Linked DNA regions of Homo sapiens. The protein of the gene in region 7 purifies or fractionates together with the protein of the main gene of each other region. This does not show direct contact. Each region holds a gene or a part of one and is shown on either strand. Other genes may lie near its edges.

Region 1 (3,500 bases), on a different chromosome or scaffold from region 7:
CCAAAGTGCTGGGATTATAGGCGTGAGCCACTGCACCCAGCTCAATTCTTGCTTTTTAATTTATTTTTAAGTTAGAGGCAGGTTCTCATCTGTCACCCTGACTGGAGTCCACGATCATAGCTCACTGCAGCCTCTACCTCCTGGGCTCAAGAGATCCTCCCCCTTCAGCCTTCGGAGCAGCTGGGACCACAGGTGCACAACACCACTCCTGGCTAATTTTTAAATTTGTTGTAGAGATGAAGTCTCGCTGTGTTGCCCAGGCTGGTCTCAAACTCCTGGGCTCGGGCAATCCTCCTTCCTTGACCTCCCCAAAAGCCCTGGGATTACAGGTTTGAGCCCCCACACCTGGTCCTAAAATTTACCTTAGTATTTATCAGTTATATGTTCATACACAGCCAAAATGTCAAACAGCACCATAGGCTTAAAATGTGCTGCCCCTCCTACCCTCCCCACCCCTGCCCCTCCTACCTCCCCTCCCGCTGCCCCTCCTACCCCCGCGCCGCCCCTCCTACCCCCCCACCCCTCCTACCCCCATCCCGCTGCCCCTCCTACCCCCCACCCACTGCCCCGCTGCCCCTCCTACCCCACTGCTGCCCCTCCTACCCACACTCTTGCCGCCCCTCCTACCCCTGGCGCCTGCCCCTGAGGAGCAGCATCTTTTCAAGCTATTTCTTCTGGTGTTTTTTTGTTTGTTTGTTTTTGTTTTTGAGACGAAGTCTCGCTCTGTCGCCCAAGCCAGAGTGCAGTGGTGTGATCTCGGCTCACCGCAACCTCCGCTTCCCGGGTTCCAGTGATTCTCTTGCCTCAGCCTCCTGGGTAGCTGGGACTACAGGCGTGTGCCACCACACTAGGCTAATTTTTGTATTTTTAGTAGAGACGGGGTTTCGCTATGTTGGCCAGACTGGTCTCGAACCCCTAACCTTGTGATCCACCCGCCTCAGCCTCCCAAAGTGCTAGGATTATAGGTGTGAGCCACTGCGCCCGGCCATTTAGTGTTTTATTGAAAACATTTATGAATACATGCCATGCTGCTCATTCCTGAACAGCTCAAAATCAGTCCTGGTAGGTTATTCACACCACCCAAATTGGCAGATGAGCCGCGCTCCAAGAACCAGCTGTTGAACGTTTGTGAGTGCAGGCTGGTGCCAGGTGCAGGCCAGGCTGGTGCTGGGCGTGGGCTGGTGCCTGGTGCGGTCCGGTGCAGGTGTGGTCCGGTGCAGGTGTGGTCCGGTGCAGGTGCAGGCTGGTGCAGGTGTGGTCCGGTGCAGGTGCAGGCTGGTGCAGGAGCAGGTTTCGTGCATTGCTCTGCTCTCTGCTTATCCTCATTCCCATCATGTTCTGTTGGTTTGATTTTGGGCCTCTGACATGTTGGTCTTTGCCCAGATGTCTTGGTGGTTCTTGTTAAAAGGGAGGCCCTAGGAGTTAGCTGGAAGCCTATTGCCTGGTGGCTTCACTTCGGGGCACTGGTGCAGAGAGCAAGGCATTGTTGAGTATCCCCACCTACCAGTGTCTGTGGGACCCTCCTCACAGGCTGAGTCTCTCCAGAGACAAACCCCCAGCCCGCCCCAGGGTTCGAGTCCTGGCTGCCCGGTTGCACTGCTGGGGAGGGGTGGCGGTGGCTGTCCTGGGTGAATCACCCATCTCTGCCCCACCTGCAGGGCCAGCTGGGGAGGGCAGGGTGGATGCTAGCGGCTCAAGTGAGGGAAGGGGCTTTGCCGAGCAGCCAGATTCTCCCCTTTGCCTCAAAGCCTGTCCATGCCTGTGGGAGAACAGTGTGTCTCCGTGGGGGCACGGGACCTGCCAGCTCCTCGCCCTCCCTCCCCACAATGCCTGGACCCTCCCTTGTGTCCCAGTTGCTCTCTGCTGGCCCTTCTGTTTCTAATCCTCCAGGTCTGCAGATGCCCCTTTCCTGCAGTCTCCCCATCCCTCCTGTCAGCCTCGGTATTGGTCCTGTCCTCCCGCCTTCCTGCGGGTCTGCGGAGGGGCAGAGGCAGAGAATGTGGCTTCCATCCGTCGTGTGGGATGGGGCTTCGCTTCTGTGAGTCTGCTCTGGAAGCTGATTGTGAGCTGCTGGCCTGAGCTGCTCCCCCCGTCTTGGGCACGTCCAGCGTTCATGCCTCGATTCTATCCCCTGCCCCGTGGGAGCCCCTGGTCCAGCTTTCCTGTCCTGGGAAGAACCCCATCATCAGGGCGCAGGCTGTGGAAGGGGCCTGGGGACACTGGACGACAATGCTGCCAGCACGTAGCAAGCACTGAAGGCCTTTGTTCCCTCCCAGCCCGTGCTGCGAGTGTAGCTCTGAGATCTCAGGCGTCCCCTCCAGAGGCCTGACCATTCCTGTCTCTCTTCCGGCCTGGCAGGAGCAACAAGGGAGCAGTGGGCAACTGCGTCACCACCATGGTGCACAACCGCTACACCCCCTCGGAGAGGGCGCCTCCGCTCAAGAGCTCCAACCAGACTGCCCCCTCCCTCAAGTAAGGTCTTCTGGGGAGGCCGCGGGGCTGCGGGGTCCGACCTCAGTTAGGGCATGTAGTCAGTGCACCTGGGGTCCGACCTCGGTCAGGGCACGCGGTCAGTTCACACAGGGTTCTACCTTGGTCAGGGCATGCGGTCAGTGTGCATGGGGTCCAACCTCGGTCAGGGCACGTGGTCAGTGCACGTAAAACCGCGTGGAGCAGCTGTGAACCGGGCTCCCCATCCACGTCCGCCGCCCTCTTCTGTTCTTGGGTCGGCAGCTTCCCACAGAGAGAAAACAGCCCAGATGTGGCACAGTGAGGTCTGGGGCTCACCCTGAGGTGGGGCCCCCAGGAGGAAGCCAAGGCTTGTGCAGAGCCCAGAAGGCGTCACAGCGGGGGTGGACCGAGCGGGGCAAAGGAGCCCCCGAGTCCACCACCACATGGTCTTGCGGGGATTGGGGATGGCCTTGGGGTTGCTCAGGGGTCCCTCAGGCTCTGGACTCCTGTGACTTTTGGGAACTTTCTCAATGGAATTTTTTTTTTTTTTGAAATGGAGTTTCATTCTTGTTGCCCAGGCTGGAGTGCAGTGGCATGATCTCGGCTTACTGCAACCTCTGCCTCCCAGGTTCAAGCGATTCTCCTGCCTCAGCCTCCCGTGTAGCTGGGAGTACAGGTGCCCGCCACCATGCCGAGCGAATTTTTTTGTGTTTTTAGTAGAAATGGGGTTTCACCATGTTGGCAAGGCTGGTCTCGAACTCGTGACCTCAGGTGATCCGCCCGCTTTGGCCTCCCAAAGTGCTGGGATTACAGGTGTGAGCCAGGGCACCCAGCCTCTCAATGTAACTTTAGTGAGAAGTTTTTAAATGCAAAGAGCTCATTATCCTGGGTACCAGTGAGTGGGACCTTGTCAGGGCACAGGTGGTCCAGAGGCCAGGATGTGGCACGGGAGAGCCGGCCTCGCACCTGCCGCTGTCCCCCTCTGCCCCGGCTGCCAGCCTGCCAGCACCACTTCCAGGCTCAGTCCTGGGACTTCCGGGAGTGGGCAC
Region 2 (3,500 bases), on a different chromosome or scaffold from region 7:
TGTGTGCCACCACACCCAGCTAATTTTGTATTTTTAGTAGAAATGGGGTTTCACCATGTTGGTCAGGCCAGTCTCAAACTCCTGACCTCAGGTGATCCACCCACCTCAGCCTCCCAAAGTGCTGAGAGTACAGGCATGAGCCACCATGCCCAGCCTACAATGTTTGTTTCTAAAAAGCATTTAAAGCAACTTACCATAAAAGCACAGATTTAATAACACCTAAAATGTAAAACTTGAATAGGGAAAAATGAGATCTAGAAATCCCTGCCAAGAACAGTACAGCGGTTTTTTATATCACGTTGAGCGCCTGTTATGTGTCATGTGTTATTCTGGATGCTGGGAGCACAGTGGTAAGACAAAGCCCCTACCTTCAATGAGATTATATTCTTGAGGAGAAGAAGGATAATAAACAACAAAAAAGCCACACAAGTATTTTCGTTGCTGATTAGCACTCTGTGGAAAACAAACATAAAAAATAATAGCTAACCTTTATTGAGTACTTACTACGTGCATTTTTAAAGTACATTAATTTAAACTTCACAACATCTTTATGATGAGGTAGTTGTTATTTGCCCCCTCTTACATATGGGTCACTTACCCAGTGGCTGAACTGGATTTGAATACAGTAGTTCAGCTCAAGAGCCGTTAATCATGATGTCATATTATCTCTTAAAAATTAAGAAATGTGCACGACTGAAAACCTTACTGAGTGTGGAAGAAGATATGGGTAAATATCATGGTAAATACTATGATTCTGAATGGGAAGACTTAATTTTCTTACAATATCCATTCTCCCCAAGTCAATCTGTAATTTCAACTTCTAATAAAAATCCTAATAGGATTTAAAAAATTGATATGTTGATATTAAAATTATTTTGGAATAGTAAATGTGCAAGAACAGCTGAGAAAAATTTGAAATGGGCTAATAACAAGAGGGATCTTTGCCTTTTGAGATCTCAAAATATATTTTAACATTATAATAAAGTAGCATACTTCTGATAGAATAGGCTAATAGTTCAATGGAACTGAAATATATTCATATATTTAGGGAATTTAGTTTATAGTTATAGTGCTATTTCAGATGAGATGAGTTTTCCCTAAATGATACTAGGACAATTGGCTCTCCATTTGGAGGAAAAAATTTAGATATGTATCTTATAGACAACTATAATTTCTAGGTGAATTAAATGATCTAAATGTAAAAAAATCAGAAAAATACTAGGAGAAAGTATGGGAAACATTATGACATTAAGATGGAAAAGCCAAAGGTTCTCCTACCGAAACACAGTGTTTACAAGATGAATGTCACGCTGAGAGATAGAACATCTATAAGAGAAAGGGTGAACATCCAGAATGTATAGAGTTCTTACAAATTGATTACAGGAAAGACAAACCAGTAGAGAAATGTACAAAGACTAAACAGCTGATTTTCAGAAGAGATTCAAATGACTAGTTACTATGGAAATAGAAACTAAAAAACGTGACTATCAAATTGTCAAAAAAAAAAAAGATAATATCTAATATTATCAAGGGCACCACCGCATAGATTGCTGATATTAGCACAGGCTTTTTAGAGAGCATTTTGGCAGTGTCTGTTAAGGTGAAAAAAATGGGCATATGTTCTGACCCAGCAGTTCTATTTTTAGGAATCTCTTTTCCAGAAATACTTGTCTAGATGTTTAAGAGTATATGTCCTTGTAGCATTACTTATAATGGCGAAAAATTTGATATAATGTAAATATCCACCAATTGGACAGTGGTTTAGCCTATTTATGGTATCTATACTTTATCCATAGTTTGAAGTAGTTTGTTGATATTGTATTGAGTGTTACACTACTTTGTAACATCAACAACAAAACCCAAATGTAAAGGGAACTGCAAGTGTAATCACTCAGCTTTTATTTTTCTCTAGCTATACCAAATGGTTTTGGTACCAGTCCACTAACTCCCTCTGCTAGGATATCAGCACTAAACATCGTGGGGGATCTCTTACGGAAAGTAGGGGTAAGTTTCAATTATTTATCACTAGGTGTTTCCACTGACAAGGTATTGAATTATTTCTTAATTTGAAGTGAGGGAAGAAAGAAAGGATACTTTCCTGTGGTAAAGGCTGTCATGAAGCTCAGAAGCAAAAGCATCCATTGACTAGCCAAGTCCAGATGACACTTCATGATGCCCCTGCAGAAGAGCCTGTACCTTGAACTCTGAGGTTCCCACCGGGGCATTCTTCCTGTTCCCCACTCCTGTTTCAACAGCACGATGCCTCTGTCCTTGTCTAGAATACTTTGTCTAAGGCCTGCTGTGTGTCTTCTACCACCCTCATCCTGGTCTTTGCTGCTGTCTACCGTCTTCCTGGTCATTCCTTTGTTTTGTGTTTGTGGGACTTTAACATTTGGCTCATGGCATTACTCTCTACTTTTAGTCTTGCCCACCTTATTTCCTTGGCCACCTCAACTTCAGTGCCTTCTCCTTGGTGTGAGCCTTGTATTCCAGAACAGTTTCGCTTCTGAAATATTAAACCCAGCCGGACGCGGTGGCTCACGCCTGTAATCCCAGCACTTTGGGAGGCTGAGGCGGGTGGATCACCTGAGGTCAGGAGTTCAAGACCAGCCTGGCCAACATGGTGAAACCCTGTCTCTACTAAAAATACAAAAATTAGTCGGCATGGTGGCAGATGCCTGTAATCCCAGCTACTTGGGAGGCTGAGGCAAGAGAATCACTTGAACCCAGGAGGCGGAGGTTGCAGTGAGCCGAGATCGAGCCACTGCACTCCAGCCTGGGCAACAGACAGCAAGACTCCATCTCAAAAAAAAAAAAAAAAAAAAAATTAAACCCGTTTTTCTGCTTAATCAGTGTGTTACTGTGTACCATACCTACTCTTTAACCTCATCAAGAGTATTACCCCATTTTTTAGTGTGTTTGTTTTTATCAGCCATCTCTTGCTTTCACTTCCTTTCTATTCATCTGTGATCTCACACATCTCTTACTCTGTCACTGTTGACTTCATGGTCTCTCTGGCCACAAAGGAGATCTGCAGTCTGAATTACTGGAAACAGTTGCAGAACCATGTGGATTTATGCCACTATCAAGTCAGCATTTCTAGCATTAGCTCCCATTACTATTTCCCTTAGTGAGTTTTACCTCTCCTTTCAGTAATCAACCATTGCCATTTCCCACTATCTACTACCCCCTTCACTTATTTTCGTGTGTGACACTTTCTAAAAAATGTAGAAATTGCATTATACTTTATCTAAAGCAGATATGGGAGGCCAAGACACAGGTCCTATGTTTGCCTGTTTCAGCTCATCATAGGGGTTATTTTCTAACCATCAGATTAAACCTGCATTTTTAAGGTTAAAATACAAAGTAAAGTGCACAGGTCGTTCCTACAGTACATAGAGTAATCTTTCTTCACTCCCAAGATAACCATTTTAAAATCCTCTATGTTGGAGTATTTGTCTTTATAACTTGAAATCATGTGCTTATTTTTCTGTTTATCT
Region 3 (2,539 bases), on a different chromosome or scaffold from region 7:
GTGCTCAGTGAGTCACAACCTGAGGAACAGCTGCTGGTTACCGATTTGTATTCCTGTATATACTCGACTTGGGTAGCCAGGATTTTCTCGTTTGTCTTGAATATATTTACTTCTAAAAAGACTGTTAGTCTTGTTGGGAGGTGAGCAGAGGAATGTTTACTTGCTGGAGAACATAGTAACAAACATCACTTCTCACCCCTCATAAACAGAAAGCCCATTGTCTGTGCCATGAAAAGAGGACTACCTTGTCAGGAAGATTTTACTTACCTCTACAAGAAAAAGGACTCGTATTAAAATCGACCTGTGGTTACCACCCTTAGAAATGCTGTTTTCAGATATTCCTATTCCTAGTCTTAGAGGCAGCCATGGAATATATAGTCTCCTCTGACCTTGGGGTCAGGAAGAAAGGGAAATCTATTCATAAAAGGAATTTAAATTCTGGCCTAGGCCTCTCAAACCTGCTTCAAGTGAAAGAAGATAGCTTAACTAACAGGAGCCTCAAGTTGAATGTCTTTTTTTTTTTTTTTTTTTTTTTGAGATGGAGTCTCCCTGTGTTGCCCAGGCTGGAGTGCAATGGCATGATCTTGGCTTACTGCAGTCTCCACCTCTCGGGCTCAAGCGATTCTCCGGCCTCAGCCTCCTGAGTAGCTGGGATTACAGGCATGCACTACCCCGCCTAGCTAATTTTTGTATTTTTAGTAGAGATGGGGTTTCACCATGTTGGCCAGGCTGGTCTTGAACTCCTGACCTCAGGTGATCCGCCCACCTCAGCCTCCCAATGTGCTGAGATTACAGGCGTGAGCCACTGTGCCTGGCCTGATTCCTTTAATACAGGCTCAAGCACAAGTGCCCACACGTATACTGTGGGTACAACCTTCTTTTTTTTTTTGAGACGGAGTCTCACTCTGTCGCCCAGGCTGGAGTGCAGTGGCGCGATCTTGGCTCACTGCAAGCTCCGCCTCCTGGGTTCACGCCATTCTCCTGCCTCAGCCTCCCGAGTAGCTGGGACTACAGGTGCCTGCCACCATGTCCGACTAATTTTTTTGTATTTTTAGTAGAGATGGGGTTTCACCGTGTTAGACAGGATGGTCTCGAACTCCTGACCTTGTGATCCGCCCGCCTCGGCCTCCCAAAGTGCTGGGATTACAGGTGTGAGCCACCGCGCCCGGCCTGGCAGAACCTTCTTAACAAGAGGGTCCCTCCAGCACATCTTTCCGAGAGCTAAGTTGGTGGGGAAAACAGACTTTGCACTCATTTGGCCGACTGCCTGAGCAGGGTCTGGGAAAAATGCCTTTAACCCCACCTCTGATTCCTTGCTCCTATGCTAGAAGACTAGCACATCTATCCCTACTGAACAAGGAGCTTGTCTGGGGTTAGGGCACTCTCATCAAAAGGCATCTTTGATGTTTTTGAGCTGGCGCACAGCCAGATCTACAGGGAGGCTAAACTTGAGGCTGCTGAGGCGACTGAGCAGGTTGAGGGCACTCTCAAAGCCTGTGTGTGCCATGTAGCTCCAGGGCTGGTAGTGAGGCTCGATGAGTGACCCGGACTTGCAGATGAGGTTCACCCAGGACACCAGACGCTGCTCATTCAGTGCCATGCACACCAAGGCCTTCAATTCTGAGTCTGCACTGCGCTTAAAAGGGTCATGCTCTGTCAGCACCATGTGGATGGCTGTCAGTAGGCTCTGTTTGGGGGTGACAACAGTGCCTCCCGTAACAGGAAGGGCGAAGGACTGGGAGAGCTTCCGGGCTGGGGATTCCACATAAGCACGGCCGTTCTTAGCATGGTAGTACTTTACAAAGAGCTCCCACGGGTGCATGGCCTCTGGGGCCGAGGAGAAGGCTGGCAGCAAACAAGCAATAGGAGCCATAACAAGGCTCATCCCTGGGGAGGAGGCATACAGTCCATGGGCCAGCAGGTCCCTCACAGCCACCGTTAGCTCCTTCCGCACAGCCATAGTCAGCTCATCCTTGCCTCCCAGAGAGAGGTCCTGGAGGTTGGCAGAGGTGATGACATGGTCATGTGGCTGCTGCCTCAAGGCTAGCTGCTTCACTCTGTCCACTGACACCTCCAGCCTCTTCAGCAAGGGAGAGTAGTCTCTGTCAGCCTGGACCCTCTGCCACAGGGTTGGAGGGATCTGGCCTGTGGCACAACCAAACTGGCTAACAGCAAAGATCTGGAGCACGGCCAGCGCTCGCCGCATCAGGTGCAGCCCCGTCTCCCGGACTTTCTTCACATCCTCTGCCTTTGCTGCTTAGAAAAGACAGTGGCTCATCAGTGAGAGGCCATGATGGCACAGAGCTACACTCAACAAATCACAGGCTGAGATCAGTCTGAGCCACATGCTGGGTCTCACATGAAGGCAAGAGCCACCCAGGATGTAGCTGGACTTCCTTTTTCTGGTTAATAATAGCTGTATTGAGATATAATTCACATACCATATGATTCACCCATTTAAGGTGTTTAATTCAGTGGTTTTTAGTATATTCAGAATTGTATAACTGTCACTGCAATCAATTTTAGAATATTTCATCCT
Region 4 (3,500 bases), on a different chromosome or scaffold from region 7:
ATTATGATTCCAGCCAAGACATCGACATAAATATACCAAAGGGAAGGACCCTGAGAGTGTGATGCAGAGACCAGTGGTGTGATGTTATACAAGGTCTTATTTCCTACATTGTTGGTTCTCACTGCTGGCTTCATGACCCTCCATCATAATCCAAGTTATCTCAAGACGTATAACTCTTACCAACCCAGTTTTTAAAAAATGTATTCTCAGTGACATTCTTAGAAGGATGGAGCACATATTCAAGCATATAATAGAATGCCGTATAACTTTAGAAAGTTTGGTAGTTACAGCTCAAAGCTATCTGGAGATGAAATTAAATATGTGAAGAGAAATTATAAATAAAACTGCCAACAGTGACTACATCTGGAGGGTGGAACTAGGGGGGGAATCAGGGACTTTCTCATGTCTATTTAAAATTATTTTGAATAAAGATTATATTTATCTGATATAAAATTATTAAGATATAAAATAGTATACCATGGAAAGTGTCCCTTCTCGCTCTGTCCCCCAGATACTCTGTTTCCCTCCCCAGAGGCAACCATGATTAACTGTTTCTGGCATAACTCCCAAGATACTGGATGCATGTAAAAGCAAATGCTTATTTTTTCCTGTTTTTCTACACAAAAGGTTGTCCATTATTGTCACTTTTAAAACAAAAAAGTTTAAGAAAACAACAGTGGTATATGAATTTAAAAAGAAAAATTAAGACAGTGAGATGTAGATAAAGAGACAGGGTAGAGTTCTCACTTCCTGGTCTAATCAGGCATTCTAAAGAATGTACATAAAAGGAACCAGAGTTAAGAACTCTGTCCTATATCATGAATTAACTTGCATGTTTCAAAGAATTTGGGACTATAGAACATATTTTGGGATTAATATAGTCTGAACTTAGTGTAGTAGTTACTTCTGGTTTAAAATAGTATCTCAATTTCCTTTTCACCTTAAATAGACTTAAGGAACAAATATATGTGTAGTTTGCTTGACGTTTTACATAAAAGAAATTTAATATATGAATTAAATTATAATTGTGTATTTTTAGGATATATCACATTAATTAAAACAGTGAATAATGTGGTACATACATATAATGGAATATATTTGACCTCAAAAAGGAAGAAAAATTTTGACACATGCTACAATATAGATGAAGCTTGAAGACATTATGCTAAGTGAAATAAGCCAGTCACAAAAGAACAAATATTGTATTATTTCAGTTATATAAAGTTTCTAGACTAGTCAAATTCATAGAAACTAGGATGATAGTTGCTAGGGTCAGGGAGAAGAGGGGATGGAAAGGTATTGTTTAATGGATGCAGAGTTTCAGTTTGAGAAGATGAATAAAAGAAAAAAATGACATTAAATTTTGTCAAGATAGCATATTGAAAATATAATAGAAAAATATTTGTTTATCTGCTATAATATATTATGTCATAGGTGTTATCTTCAGGAAGGCACACTGGACCTGCTAAATTAACAAATGGAAAGAAAGCGTAAGTACTTGAAGACGTTTACAACTTCAGATTTCAAGGAATTTTTCAGGTCTTTGGGCTGGATGACATGTCGTCTACCCCAGAAAATTAGGTAGGCCTCTACCATCACAAGCTCTGAGGAACAATTTTTCATGTCTACCCATGTTAATCATTTTAGTATTTAACAGTCTTTCTGATCTTCAGAATGTGTTTATAAATTCATCTTGTACATGGTTGGACAAGCTTTCTTGTCTTTGCTGGAAAGAAAATGACTACTTACTAATATATTTTGGGAAAAATATTTGTAAGAATATTAATAAGCTTGTTTTCCAGGACCTATTTAAGAAAAATACCACGTTTTAATGCAGATTCTGGCTATTCCATCCATTCTGATTCAGAAAGTCAGGTAAGATTGAATAGATACAATACACACTATTTTAATTAGTTTTCAAATAGTAGCTAAAAAGTAGGAATAAAATGCAAAGTATTAATTGCTCTAAGGAAGTATGAAGTCTGTTGCTTTAAAACATCTTTTCTACCAATAATAGTTTGTAAATAAACAAATTTTAAAACTACATAATTTATATTTTTTCCTACACTAACAGTCATATACAAATGTATTCTAAATGACTTTATTTCTTACAGGCTGAAACTGTACACGGGCTTGATGGTTGTGCTTCTTTGCTGAGGGACATTTTGAGAAATGAAGATTCAGGTTTTTTTTTTTTAATTCTTTGCTGATCACCTTATCTCAAGTCATTATTTTGATGTAACAAATTTTTGTTTTATTAATAGGTTCAGAAACAGCATATTTAGAAAACAGATCTAATTCTAGACCTTTAGAAAGCAAAAGATACGGATCAAAAAAGAAAAGACATGAAAAACATACTATTCCTTTGGTAGTCCAGAAAGAAACATGTAAGCCTTTTTTCTCTTAGTTATTTAAAGATAATCCTTAATTGTGGGTATTTTGATCAATTATCAGGATTATACAGTTGATTTTCATTTTAATAATCAGTATTAGTTAGGTTTATGTGTGCTTATGCCTTTCTGTATTCAGCTTCTAATCACTGAGTAGTCCACTTTGCTTGCTATCATTTTCTCAAGAAGAAAAATAGAAAAAGAGACTGTCAGGGTTTTGTAGGAGAAAAAGTTCAAACTCAGAATGACATTTGGGAGGTATATAGAGTGATCTTAGTTTCCCCTGCCACTTGTTTTCATAGATAATCATAAATTGGTTGTATTTCAAGTGTATACTTCTAGTAGTTGCTTTAAAATTATTATATTTATATATATATATATCCTAAGTTGGTCAAGCTGAACTTGTCAAGCTACACAGTTAGGATACATGGTACATAGGAAGGTAAAATCGGATGAATAAGGAAAGGCTGCTGCTGATTGGTGGTGAGTATAGCCAAGGGTACTTTACACCCTCACGGCTAACTTTTCCTAGTTTAGAACAAGAAAGTTTTGATTATGTTGTCCCTTGGAGGCCTAGAAAACAAGATAGCCCAAAATGAAGATGAAAAAGTCCACAGTGGGAATTCAGATGGACTAGAATTAGACTAGCCAGTTCTATAGTTCAGGTGGGCCAGAAATGTCAGCACTGTAGTACGTGCTTAGATTCAGCTTGGGCAAGGAATGAAGTTTAGAAAGTCATATAAAGCAGTAGCCCTATAAAGAGATCAGGATTTAAGCAAGGAGGCTGAGAAAGTGTCAGTAGAGCATTCATGGGACTAGAGGTTGATGTTTCAGATAGTCCCAAGGTAGAGAACTAAGGCAAGGGAAACCTAACTCATCTTGGAGGCCAGTAATGATAGCTTTATATTATCTTGACCTGTGCTATTCAAGATGGTAGCCACTGGCCACATGTGGCTATTCAGCACTTGAAATGTGACTAGTACAACCAAGGAATTGAATTTTAATGTTATTTAATTTAATTTAATTTAAAATTAAATTAGAAAACTGATAATTGATCCAGTTATTATAAAACTTTTAAGTATGTTTGGAATAACTTGGGCATGTGAACCT
Region 5 (3,500 bases), on a different chromosome or scaffold from region 7:
AGCATTGAAAAATACAACATCTGAAAGAAAAAGGCTAACAAGAAGCAATAGCCCATTTTTTGCCTTTGGCCATAGTCAGGATGTGATGCTTATTTTGCCATAGTCTTCTGGTCATGAGGATAGCTAGCCTGAAGACAAGGCCCATGTACTGCGCTACATATGGCAGAGCAAGAATATAGGAAGGGGTTGGGTACGGTGGTGCATGCCTGTAATCCCAGCACTTTGGGAGGCCAAGGCAGGCGGATCACTTGAGGCCAGGAGTTCGATGACAGCCTGGCCAACATGGTGAAACCCCGTCTCTACTAAAAATACCAAAATTAGCCAGACGTGGCAGTGGGCGCCTGTAATCCCACCTACTCCGGAGGCTGAGTCAGGAGAATCGCTTGAATCTGGGAGGCAAAGGTTGCAGTGAGACGAGATTGTGCCACTGCACTCCAGCCTGGGTGACAGAGTGAGACTCCTCTGTCTCAAAAAAAAAAAAAAAAAAAATATATATATATATATATATATGAAGGATCTGGGTCTCTGGGCCACTATAGGTTAGGTTAACCTGGGAACTTACCTGCCACCAGACATCTTGTACTGGGAGAAAAAGAAAACGCACTTATTTAAGCAACTTCTGTTTGGAGCTTATGATACTAATCTGAGAAAGAAAGCATTGTTAGGGCTCAGAAAATTATACCCCCAAATATGCCACTTTGGACTTCAAATCGAGAGAACCTGGGGAGCCAGAAATGCAAGAAAGGGTCTTCTCTGAAGTTCCCCTATCTACCTAAAGGTTGTATCCTCCAGAAGATATTCAACTTGTGAATCTCTTTCCCAGACATCTCAAGTCAAATAGATGTATACTGAAGGAAGATTGGAGTTGACACCACACCAAGCCCAGATAAACTTTGTCTCAGACTTTCATCTCTTCTTTGGGCCCATTCATCCCCCCTAAAGATTATTTACTCATCCTGTAAATTGCCTTACATACCCCACTTCCCTCTTCCCTATGAAGAGGGTATTTAAGATTTAGCCATCTGGCCCTTGTTTGAGTTTCATACTTTGTATGACTCCACACTTGCCACACTTGCACATAATACCTTTGTATGCCTTTTCTCCTGTTTTCTTTTTTAAAGGACTTTACACAGATGATTAAGGATTTTAAAATGAGATTATTCTGGATTATCACAGTGGCCCCTAAATGCAAACACATGTATTGTTATTTGACCACAGAAGAGGAGAGAGTGTTGTGACTGCAGAGGCAGAGATTGGTAATGCAGCCATCTGAAGCTGGAAGAGTCAAGGAAGGCTACTCCCCTAGAGCTTCTAGAAGGAGAGCAGCCTGCCTTCATTTTGGCACAGTGAAACTGATTTGGGACTTCAGGCCTCCAGAACTGAGAGAATGAATTTCTGTTGTTTTAAGCTGCCAGTTTGTGGTAATGTGTTACACCTGCCATAGGAAATGAAGCTAGGTATAGTTACAAGGAGGACCATCAGATTCATTTAAATCTCTGCCTTCACTTTATTTCAGAGGGTTTGTTTGTAATTTGGGAGGACAGACGATAACCAAATTACAATAGAAAAATAAACCACCACTGGAATAACAACCAAAACCTCCATTCATGTTTTGTCTACTCTGTATTTATAGTTTCTAGGAAGCTGGGAAAAGATGGAGGTGATATCTAAATGCTCTTTTTGATTTTTTGAACTTGTTCCTTCATTGAGTTCTCAGCTTAAGTGATGCTCTCAGTTGTCCTAGGGTTAAACTGTCAAGAATTGAGATACTGTTTTTAGTTGAAAGCTTTAGGCACCTAAATTTTATTCGTGTCAGAATTCTACCTAACACACACCAGGCATTGTAAGCTTCAGAAGGAGGTAAAATCATTTTATTCAGGCTGCTGTTCTAAGAAATTGCTCTGAATTTTCCCAGCCATTCTTTCCTTTCTATCCTTCTTAATAAAACAGAAAAACCCAGAAATTTTTTTAAATAAATGATTTATCAAAAGAAACAATATATATTAAGTGGCTTTTTGGGGGATACATTTAGTTGCTGAAAGTAGATAACATATGGCATTTAATACTCCTGGACCACTCTGGGTCTTTTCTTTGACGGTAAAAAGGGGTGGGGGTAGAGATAGGGATGATTGTCTCAGATTTAGAACAGGGCTTAATTGCTTTTTTCAAAGACTCATGTCTTTAATTATGAAGCAAGCAAACTGACATACATTTATTACATGGTGAAACCTTGCATCTCATCTAGTCTATCTTGTAGCAATTGCTTCTGAACAGATGTTACCTGAAACACCTTTGTGCAGTTGGTGGAATGCTAAAATTTGTCATGCTTTTATTATTGTTGTCTTGAATTAACTCTACTTTATGGCGTAACTTTATTGCTGTGTCCTAGAATCTTTATATATTTATTGCCTTATAAATTGGATTTAAAATTGGCTTTTTATATAGAATGTAAATTAACATGTGTCTAACTTGTTTATGCTGCAGAATAATACAGGAAAAAACTGCTACGTATTACACTAATGTAATTGTCTTTAACTTAGCACATAGTATCCTCTAAACTAGGAATCAAATGAATGCTAAAGAATATGCTTATCCTTACACTCTTGCTTGTTTATCTCAGAAACTAATTTGACTTTTAGATCTATAAAATATAGATTAAGCATAACCTTTTACTTCATGGGATATTAAGGATCAAAGCATGGGCTTTCTTTGAACAGGATCTACAAAGGTAACTTTTCTTTCAGTAGCAGCAGGATGGCATTGAAATACCTTACCATTGGGAGTAATTTTTCTCAAATAGCAAATTGAATAGTCTTTATTAACTTAGGGGAGAATTTAAGAGTTTAAATAAGCTTTGGTCCTGAAACATTCATGTTACTAGTTACTTAGTGAAATCTATTTGGAAATGCTTGCCATAGATTTTATTCTTCAAAAGACCCACTGCTATCTTTTCTTACAGTTTTTTGTAGAAGAAGCGTTATGAGTAACATTTATGAGCAGTGACTTGAACCACTCTCAGGGGTTGAATCCCAGCAATATCACTTATTAGCTGTGTGAACTGAGCAATTACTTAACCGTTCTCTGTGCCTCCCCTTTCTCATGTGTAACATGGGGTTGTCATGAAGATTAAAAGTTATGTTTTGGGCCTAGAATACCTGGCTCATTGTAACCTCTATGGAAATATTTGCCATTTATAGGATTGTTGTTTTTGTTATCATTAGTAGTAACAGTAATAATAGTACAATTTTTGCCTACACTTTAGGGCATTAGGAATACATTGGATATTTGAAAAGCTTTCTAATCTTGGAAAACTTAATTGAACCAGGCTATTTCCTCTTGGTGTGCTGGAGGCAGAGCCATTCTGTTCTTAGTTCTTATCCTGGCATACCAGGTAACATTTGGATTGATGCAGAGTTCTGATCTGATGACTGAATGGTCAGAGCAAGTTTCTGAAGCTTTCTTAGGGGCCTGTTCTTTATGTCTAAAGTGGGGATAATAGG
Region 6 (3,500 bases), on a different chromosome or scaffold from region 7:
ACACTTGGTGCTTGGGGAGATGGGGCTGAAGGAGAGTTGATCTGTACCCATCACAGACGTGGACAAGAATGGGTGTCGGGTGGACCTTGGCAAGCCCAGCTTTACTAATGTATAGGAAAGGGTGTGGGACCAACAAATGGATTGGGGGTTTGGGGCAGGGCGGAGGAGAGGTCCCAGACACGTTGAAGGTGGTCATTGAAGCTGAAGCTTTCTGTTGGAGACCACAGAGTGCAGCTGGCCGTCTGCAGATCCATCTGCCCCATAGGTGTTGTTTGATCGCCTTCAGGGGTTTTTGTTCAGCATTTCCCCATGAACGTTTTCCAGCATATAAGGCTGAAAGAATTTCCAGTGAATACCTGTGTATCCACCACCACCTAGGCTCTACCAATAATATTTCCCCTACTTACTTGCCTTTTATTATATATATTCCCCCATCCATCAAAATTTGTAAAGCTTCCTGTAAAAAGATGGATTTCTGGCCAGGCATGGTGGTTCATACTTGTAATCCCAGCCCTTTGAGAGGCTGAGGAGGGAGAATTGCTTGAGACCAGGAGTTCAAGGCCAGCCTGGGCAACATAGCGAGACTCTGTCTCTACAAAAAAATAAAAATAAAAAATTCATTGGACATGGTAGTGCACACCTGTAGTCTAAGCTACTCAAGAGGCTGAGGCAGGAGCATTGCTTGAGCCCAGGAGGTTGAGGCTGCAGTGAGCTATGATTGTACCATTGCACTCCATCCTGGGTGACAGAGCAAAAGTTAAAAAATAAAAAACCTGAGTAGTGGTTGTTTAGAACACACATTGTTGAGTTTCCCCCAATCCCCATATCCGTGACACGGAGACCTTAGTGTCATCTGCCTCTCCCTGTACTTGGCCCACTTCACCCATTTGTTAACAGCTGAACACCTGCTACACACAATGAGCAATGATTATCGTTCTTTTTGTTGTTGTTGTTTTTGCTGTTGGAGACAGAGTCTCCCCCTGTCACCCAGGCTGGAGTGCAGTGGTGTGATCTCAGCTCACTGCAACCTCTGACTTCCAGGCTTAAGTGATCCTCCCACCTCAGCCTCCCAAGTAGCTGAGATTACAGGCACCTGCCACACCACGCCTGGCTAATTTTTGTTATTTTTTGTAGAGACGGGTTCATGTGCCCATGCTAGTCTGGGACTCCTGAGCTCAAGTGATCCGCCTGCCTCGGCCTCTCAAAGTGCTGGGATTACAGGTGTGAGCCACTGCGCCTGGCTGATTATAGTTCCTAAATTGAAGGGGACTCTGGGTTGAAAAGCTGGGTAGGAGGAAGATTAGTGGTATGAACTGCAGTTTGGAGAGGATAACAGGCCCTCCATGGATCCTGAGTAAAATATCAAGAGAATTACTCAGTAATTCTCTGCTTCAAGACTGAGCTCTTGGGCCTGGCGTGGTGGCTGATGCCTGTAATGCCAGCACTTTGGGAGACCGAGGCGGGCGGATCATGAGGTCAAGAGATTGAGACTGTCCTCGCTAACATGGTGAAACCCCGTCTCTACTAAAAATAAAAAAATTAGCTGGGCATGGTGGCGCACACCTGTAGTCCCAGCTACTCGGGGGCTGAGGCAGGAGAATTGCTTGAACCTAGGAGGTGGAGGTTGCAGTGAGCTGAGATTGCGCCACTGTACTGCAGCCACATGTCAGATGCAGGAGACTCAGAGCACACAGCACAGTGAAGAAACAGGGTACCTTGGAATAACGAGGACCCTGCCACCAGCAAGTATTTGTCAGTCACCTAAGAGAAATATATTCAGCTGGGCCGGACTTCTTAACAACTGGCTTATTCATCACGGGTTGAATGAAAAAGCCTTTAAGGGACCAAACAGAGCATCTATTGATGCCCCCATCAGCTGACAGCTTATTCGAATTAGCCCCAAATGGCAGCACAACATTTCAGCAACAGGTTTTCATGTCCACAGGTTCCGAGGAGATCTCTCAATCGCCAGTGCAGTCGGTGGAGCCCACTCGCTGCGTCCTCCTGGAGCCTGCGTTTGAATTTAGGTTAATGACTTAAGATCCTGTTTTATTTGGAGATGTTCCCAAATAAAGGGTGTGAGGCGATGAGAGCCACGCCTGGGAACAGGGCCTGGTCTGCCTCTACTTGCTGGGTGCAGATACTTCTCTGCTTACAGCCAGGAAATGGGGAGGGTGCTGCGGGCGGCAGCAGGGATGTGGTCCGCCCTCCTCATCCTTCCAACGCTGTAAATCATCTGTTTGTTCTTTCTTTGGAGTCTTCTTGCACAATGGCTCTCGCCACGCCTCTCTGGCCTAGGCACCATTACATCACCCTGGGTGCATCCGGACTTTCTAGCAACGGCTTTGTTTACTTGATTGAGTAAAGAGAAGTTGGCCTTTTTTAACTTTTAAATTAGACCTTGCGCCTTTCTTGTGGGAAGTGTTTTCTCTTATGTTTGTAGAATCTAGGATGGGTGTTTTGTGTTTTCGGTTTTGATTTTTTTTTGAGATGGGGTCTCTGTCACCCAAGCTGGAGTGCAGGGGCACAATCTTGGCTCACTGCAACCTCCGCCTCCCGGGCTCAAGCGATTCCCCTGCCTCCCGGGTAGCTGGGACCATAGGCACTTGCCACCACACCCAGCTATTTTTTGTATTTTTGGTAGAGACGGGGGTTTCACCGTGTTGGCCAGGCTGTTCTCAAACTCCTGACCTCAAGTGATCTGCCCGCCTTGGCCTCCCAAGTAGCTGGAACTACAGCCGTGCACCACTATGCCGGGCTAATTTTTGTATTTTGGTTTCGCCATGTTGCCCCAGGCTGGTGATTTTTTTTTTTTTTTTAAGCGTTGGCCTGGGCTAGAGTGCAGTGGCATGATCATAGTTTACTGGAGCCTCAACCTCCTGGCCTCAAGCAGTCCTCCCACCTCAGCCTCCCCCATAGCTAGGACTGCAGGTGCATGCCACCACGCCTGGCTGTTCTTAAATTTTCTGTAGAGATGGAGTCTTCCTATGTTGCCTAGGCTAATATGCCTCTGCCACCTGAGGTGCTGGGATTGCGGCATGAGGCACCGCACCTGGCTCTGGGTGTTTGGTGAAGGAAAGTAATTTGGAAGCAGAGCAGGAATAGAATCGAGAGAGCACGGGAACGGGCAGGTGATCTGGATTGAGATGGTTTAGGGCTGGTTAGCATAATTGCTTAAGGACACCTGCTCAGGAGGCTGGGGTTTGGTCTTGGCCCAGTCATTTGCTACTGGTTGATTCTGGGCTAGTTAAGTAATTGAGTCTCAGTGTTCATGTCTCTGAAGTGGAATTAAACGAGACAACATAGGAAGTGTACTTAGCCTGGAGGCCAGCACAGAATAAGTATGTAATGGATGTTATTGCTGCAGCTGGCAACAGGGAATCATTGAGAAGTGCGCTGGACTGTTTCTTTGGTAATTAACAAGATCTCCCTCTCTGTCTCTCTCCTCTCCTTTTCTCTCCCTTTCCCTTCCTCCATCTTCTCCCTCCCTTCTGTCTTAG
Region 7 (4,018 bases):
CTTTCACCCCTTGGATCTGGAGTGCCCGACACTGCTCTGTGGGCAGGTGGAGGGGACACAGTGGCTAGGATTGGGCCAAGGGCCTGGCCTGGAATCCCCTGGGGGAGGCTTGCATCAGGGAGGCCCCAGGCCCCAGGGTCCAGGGGGATGCCCCCTCCATGGCCAAGATCCCTCCTCCCGCCCTGTCCTGGGGGACACCGCTCCACTGCCCAGCAGCAGCTGTCTGAAGGGCTCTCAGTGGACAGGTGCGGGGAGGTGGACAGGTGGGGAGGGTGAGGCAAAGGAGAGGGATGGCAGGGTCCTGTGGTCCCGTCCAGATTTGCTGCCCATGGAAGCAGGTGGGTGTTTTCCTGTCCATTCTGGCTTTGGGGCCCGTGTTGCTCTTATGCTCACGTCTCCTTGAAGCCCCTCTCTCTGATTTAGTCCCTCCATGCAGGTCCCTTTGATCCCTTCTCCCAGCTCTGTCAGGGAGTGGGCAGTAGGGGGGTCTGTTTTCCCCTCCATGTCCTGGATTGTCCCTGTATTAAAACTAAAAGTCCTAGGCCAGGAGCGGTGGCTCACACCTGTAATCCCAGCACTTTGGGAGGCCGAAGTGGGCGGATCACCTGTGGTCAGGAGTTCGAGACCAGCCTGGCCAACATGGTGAAACCCCATCTCTACTAAAAATACAAAACTAGCTGGGTGTGGTGGTGTGTGCCTGTAGTCCCAGCTACTCAGGAGGCTGAGGCAGAATTGTTTGAACCCAGGAGGTGGAGGTTGCAGTGAGCTGAGATTGCACCACTGCACTCCACCTGGACGACAGAATGAGACTCTGTCTCAAAAAAATAAATAAGCTAGGCGCCGGTGGCTCATGCCTGTAATCCCAGCACTTTGGGAGGCCGAGGCGGATGGATCACCTGAGGTCAGGAGTTTGAGACCAGCCTGGCCAAGATGGGTAAACCCCGTCTCTACTAAAAATACAAAAATTAGCTGGGCGTGGTGGTGGGCACCTGTAATCCCAGCTACTCGGGAGGCTGAGGCAGGAGAATCACTTGAACCCGGGAGGTGGAGGTTGCAGTGTGCTGAGATTGCACCATTGCACTCCAGCCTGGGTGACAGAGCGAGACTGCGTCTCAAAATAAATAAATAAATAAAAATACAAATACGAAAATTAGCTGAGTGTGGTGGCGTACACCTGATGTCCCAACTAATCAAGAGGCTGAGCCAGGAGAATCGCTCGAACCCGGGAGGTGGAGGTTGCAGTGAGCCGAGATCATGCCACTGCACTCGAGCCTGCGTGACAGAGCGAGACTCTGTCTCCAAACAAACATCCCCTAAAAGTGAAGGGGGCCTGCCCCTCCACACCTGCGGGTATTTCTCGTCAGGTGGGATGAAGACTGAGAAAAGAAATAAGACACAGAGGCTGGGCATGGTGGCTCACGCCTGTAATCCCAGCACTTTGGGAGGCTGATGCGGGCAGATCACGAGGTCAGGTGATCGAGACCATCCTGGCTAACACGGTGAAACCGCATCTCTACTAAAAATACAAAAAATTAGCCGGGCATGGTGGTGGGTGCCTGTAGTCCCAGCTACTTGGGAGGCTGAGGCAGGAGAATGACGTGAACCCAGGAGGTGGAGCTTGCAGTGAGCCGAGATCGCGCCACTGCACTGCCGTCTGGGCAACAGAGCAAGACTCCATCTCATAAAAAAAAAAAAAAAAGACACAAAGTATAGAGAAAGAACAGTGGGCCCAGGGGACTGGCACACTCAGCATGCGAGGACCTGCACCAGCCCTGGTCTCTGAGTTCCCTCAGTATTTACTGATCATTATTTTTACTATCTTGGTGAGGGGAGTGTAGCAGGGCAACAGGTGGTGAGAACGTCAGCAGGGAAACATGTGAGCAAAGGAATCTTTATCATGAATAAGTTCAAGGAAAGGTACTATGCCCAGATGTGCACGTAGGCCAGATTTGTTTCACGTTACACAAACATCTCAGTGTAGCAAAGAGTAACAGAGCAGTATTGCTGCCAGCATATCTTGCCTCTAGCCACAGAGCGGTTTTCTCCTATCTTAGAATAGAACGAATGGGAATGGTCGGCTTTACACTGAGACATTCCATTCCCAGGGACGAGCAGGAGACAGATGCCTTCCTCTTATCTCAACTGCAAAGAGGCCTCCCTCTTTCACTACTCCTCAGCACAGACCCTTTACTGGTGTCGGGCTGGGGGATGGTAAGATCTTTCCTTTCCCACGAGGCCATATCTCAGGCTGTCTCAGTGGGGGGAAACCTTGGACAATTCCCAGGCTTTCCTGGGCAGAGGTCCCTGCGGCTTTCTGCAGTGCACTGTGTCCCTGGTTAATCAAGAATGGAGGATGGGGATGACTTTTACCAAGCATACTGCCTGCAAACACATTGTTAACAAAGCACATCCTGCACGGCCCTAAATGCATTAATCTTTGATTCAATACAGCACATGTTTCTGTGAGCACAGAGTTGGGGCTAAAGTTACAGGTTAATAGCATCTCAAAGCAGAAACAATTTTTCTTAGTACAGATCAAAATGGAGTTTCTTATGTCTTCCTTTTCTACATAGACAGTAACAATCTGATCTCTCTTTTCCCCACAAAAAGTTGTGCACCCAGAAACCCCCAGACGGGAAAGGGAGACTGGTCACGGCGGTGCAGGCTCACCCTGGAGCTGAGTGATGGTCTTCAGCTCCTGGGTCTGCTCTTCCACATCTGTCTCACTGTGCCTCCTCATGGCTGCTCTCAGGCCCCCCAAGGGACCCTGTGTACCTCAAAGCCTCCCTGGGCTCAGCTTGCTCAGAGCCGCCACTCAGATTGTCCCCAGAACCTCAGCCCATTATGATGAGAGCCAGGATTCTCAGTGCCTGGGCAACCCTGGAATTGCAGGGCCTCCTGCCTCACTCTGCCCCCAGCCACCTTGGGGTGGCCTCCAGACATGTGTCCTAATTGAAATGAGTCTCCTGGCAGCTGCTCGAGGCTTAGGAGCTCTGCCGGGCGGATGTGCTTTCTTTGAGGGGGAGGTTTGTGATGGGTCTGCAGCACCGGCAGCTCACACCTGCACTGGGTTCCCTCCCTGGCCCCTCCCATGCCCCAAGCCATCCTCCACAAAGCAGCAGGCCGAGCCTCCTAAAACGATTCTGATACTATTCTGATACTGCCTTACGGGACCTCCCTCTGCACCCCCCACCCCCAGCCCCAAGTCCAAACTCCATGCACTGGGTAACCTGGCTCTTGGGACACCCCCACCTTATCTCTTCTGACTTCTGTCCCTGACCTCTCTGTGCTGTCTGGAGCCCACCCTGCTTCACCCCCACTTTCCTTTGGGAATTACTGGGTCTTGGGTTCATGTGTCACTCCAGAAAGGGTATGTTCTCCATCTCTGCACCCCCTCCACCCTTCCCTTAGAGGGGAGTACCTGGAGCACCAGGCAGCCTGGAACTCTGTGGGGTATGCACGAGATGGGGTACACACGAGATGGGGTACTTTTTCCCAGCCTTGCCTTAGTAGGCTCAGGCGGCCATAACAAGGTGCCACTGGCCAGGTGTGGAGGCTCACGCCTGTAATCCCAGCACTTTGGGAGGCTGAGGTGGGTGGGTCACCTGAGGTCAGGAGTTCAAGACCAGTCTGGTCAACATGGTGAAACCCCGTTTCTACTAAAAATACAAAAATTAGCCCAGTGTGGTGGTGGGCGCCTGTCCCAGCTACTTGGGAAGCCGAGGCAGGAGAATTGCTTGAATCCAGGAGGTGGAGGTTGCAGTGAGCTGAGATCGCGTCACTGCACTCCAGCCTGCGTGACAGAGTAAGACTCCATCTCAAAAAAACAAAAAACAAAAAAACAAAAAAACAAGGCGCCACCGACTGGGGGATGTGAACAGCAGCCTGGAGGCTGGGGGCTGAGATCACGGGTCAGCAGGGCTGGTGTCTCCTGAGGCCCCTCTCCTTGGCTTGCAGATGCTGTCTTCTCTGTGTCCTCACGTGGCCGTCCCTCTGTGTGTCTGTGTCCTAATTTCCT

Evidence for each region.
Region 1: the proteins of CCDC183 (region 7) and CEP131 purify together in Homo sapiens (affinity purification with mass spectrometry; 3 studies listed by BioGRID and IntAct, with this or other methods). This does not show direct contact.
Region 2: the proteins of CCDC183 (region 7) and NDEL1 purify together in Homo sapiens (affinity purification with mass spectrometry; 3 studies listed by BioGRID and IntAct, with this or other methods). This does not show direct contact.
Region 3: the proteins of CCDC183 (region 7) and RUNDC1 purify together in Homo sapiens (affinity purification with mass spectrometry; 3 studies listed by BioGRID and IntAct, with this or other methods). This does not show direct contact.
Region 4: the proteins of CCDC183 (region 7) and CCDC14 purify together in Homo sapiens (affinity purification with mass spectrometry; 3 studies listed by BioGRID and IntAct, with this or other methods). This does not show direct contact.
Region 5: the proteins of CCDC183 (region 7) and DIAPH3 purify together in Homo sapiens (affinity purification with mass spectrometry; 3 studies listed by BioGRID and IntAct, with this or other methods). This does not show direct contact.
Region 6: the proteins of CCDC183 (region 7) and NDE1 purify together in Homo sapiens (affinity purification with mass spectrometry; 3 studies listed by BioGRID and IntAct, with this or other methods). This does not show direct contact.

The regions. Positions count from the first base shown.
Region 1 is NC_000017.11:81,202,466-81,205,965, reverse strand, and holds part of CEP131 (centrosomal protein of 131 kDa), read left to right. Parts: intron 1-2,358; coding exon 2,359-2,472; intron 2,473-3,500. UniProt on the Homo sapiens protein: Component of centriolar satellites contributing to the building of a complex and dynamic network required to regulate cilia/flagellum formation.
Region 2 is NC_000017.11:8,452,884-8,456,383, forward strand, and holds part of NDEL1 (nuclear distribution protein nudE-like 1), read left to right. Parts: intron 1-1,912; coding exon 1,913-2,004; intron 2,005-3,500. UniProt on the Homo sapiens protein: Required for organization of the cellular microtubule array and microtubule anchoring at the centrosome. May regulate microtubule organization at least in part by targeting the microtubule severing protein KATNA1 to the centrosome.
Region 3 is NC_000017.11:42,990,565-42,993,103, reverse strand, and holds part of RUNDC1 (RUN domain-containing protein 1), read right to left. Parts: intron 2,257-2,539; coding exon of another isoform or gene 2,254-2,256; coding exon 1,388-2,253; 3' UTR 1-1,387. UniProt on the Homo sapiens protein: May play a role as p53/TP53 inhibitor and thus may have oncogenic activity.
Region 4 is NC_000003.12:123,954,730-123,958,229, reverse strand, and holds part of CCDC14 (coiled-coil domain-containing protein 14), read left to right. Parts: exon of another isoform or gene 1-1,434; coding exon 1,435-1,490; exon of another isoform or gene 1,491-1,802; coding exon 1,803-1,875; exon of another isoform or gene 1,876-2,114; coding exon 2,115-2,184; exon of another isoform or gene 2,185-2,264; coding exon 2,265-2,387; exon of another isoform or gene 2,388-3,500. UniProt on the Homo sapiens protein: Negatively regulates centriole duplication. Negatively regulates CEP63 and CDK2 centrosomal localization.
Region 5 is NC_000013.11:60,153,929-60,157,428, reverse strand, and holds part of DIAPH3 (protein diaphanous homolog 3), read left to right. Parts: intron 1-3,500. UniProt on the Homo sapiens protein: Actin nucleation and elongation factor required for the assembly of F-actin structures, such as actin cables and stress fibers. Required for cytokinesis, stress fiber formation and transcriptional activation of the serum response factor.
Region 6 is NC_000016.10:15,670,745-15,674,244, forward strand, and holds part of NDE1 (nuclear distribution protein nudE homolog 1), read left to right. Parts: intron 1-1,664; exon of another isoform or gene 1,665-2,027; intron 2,028-3,500. UniProt on the Homo sapiens protein: Required for centrosome duplication and formation and function of the mitotic spindle. Essential for the development of the cerebral cortex.
Region 7 is NC_000009.12:136,795,120-136,799,137, reverse strand, and holds the start of CCDC183 (coiled-coil domain-containing protein 183), read right to left. Parts: upstream 2,801-4,018; 5' UTR 2,741-2,800; coding exon 2,671-2,740; intron 37-2,670; coding exon 1-36.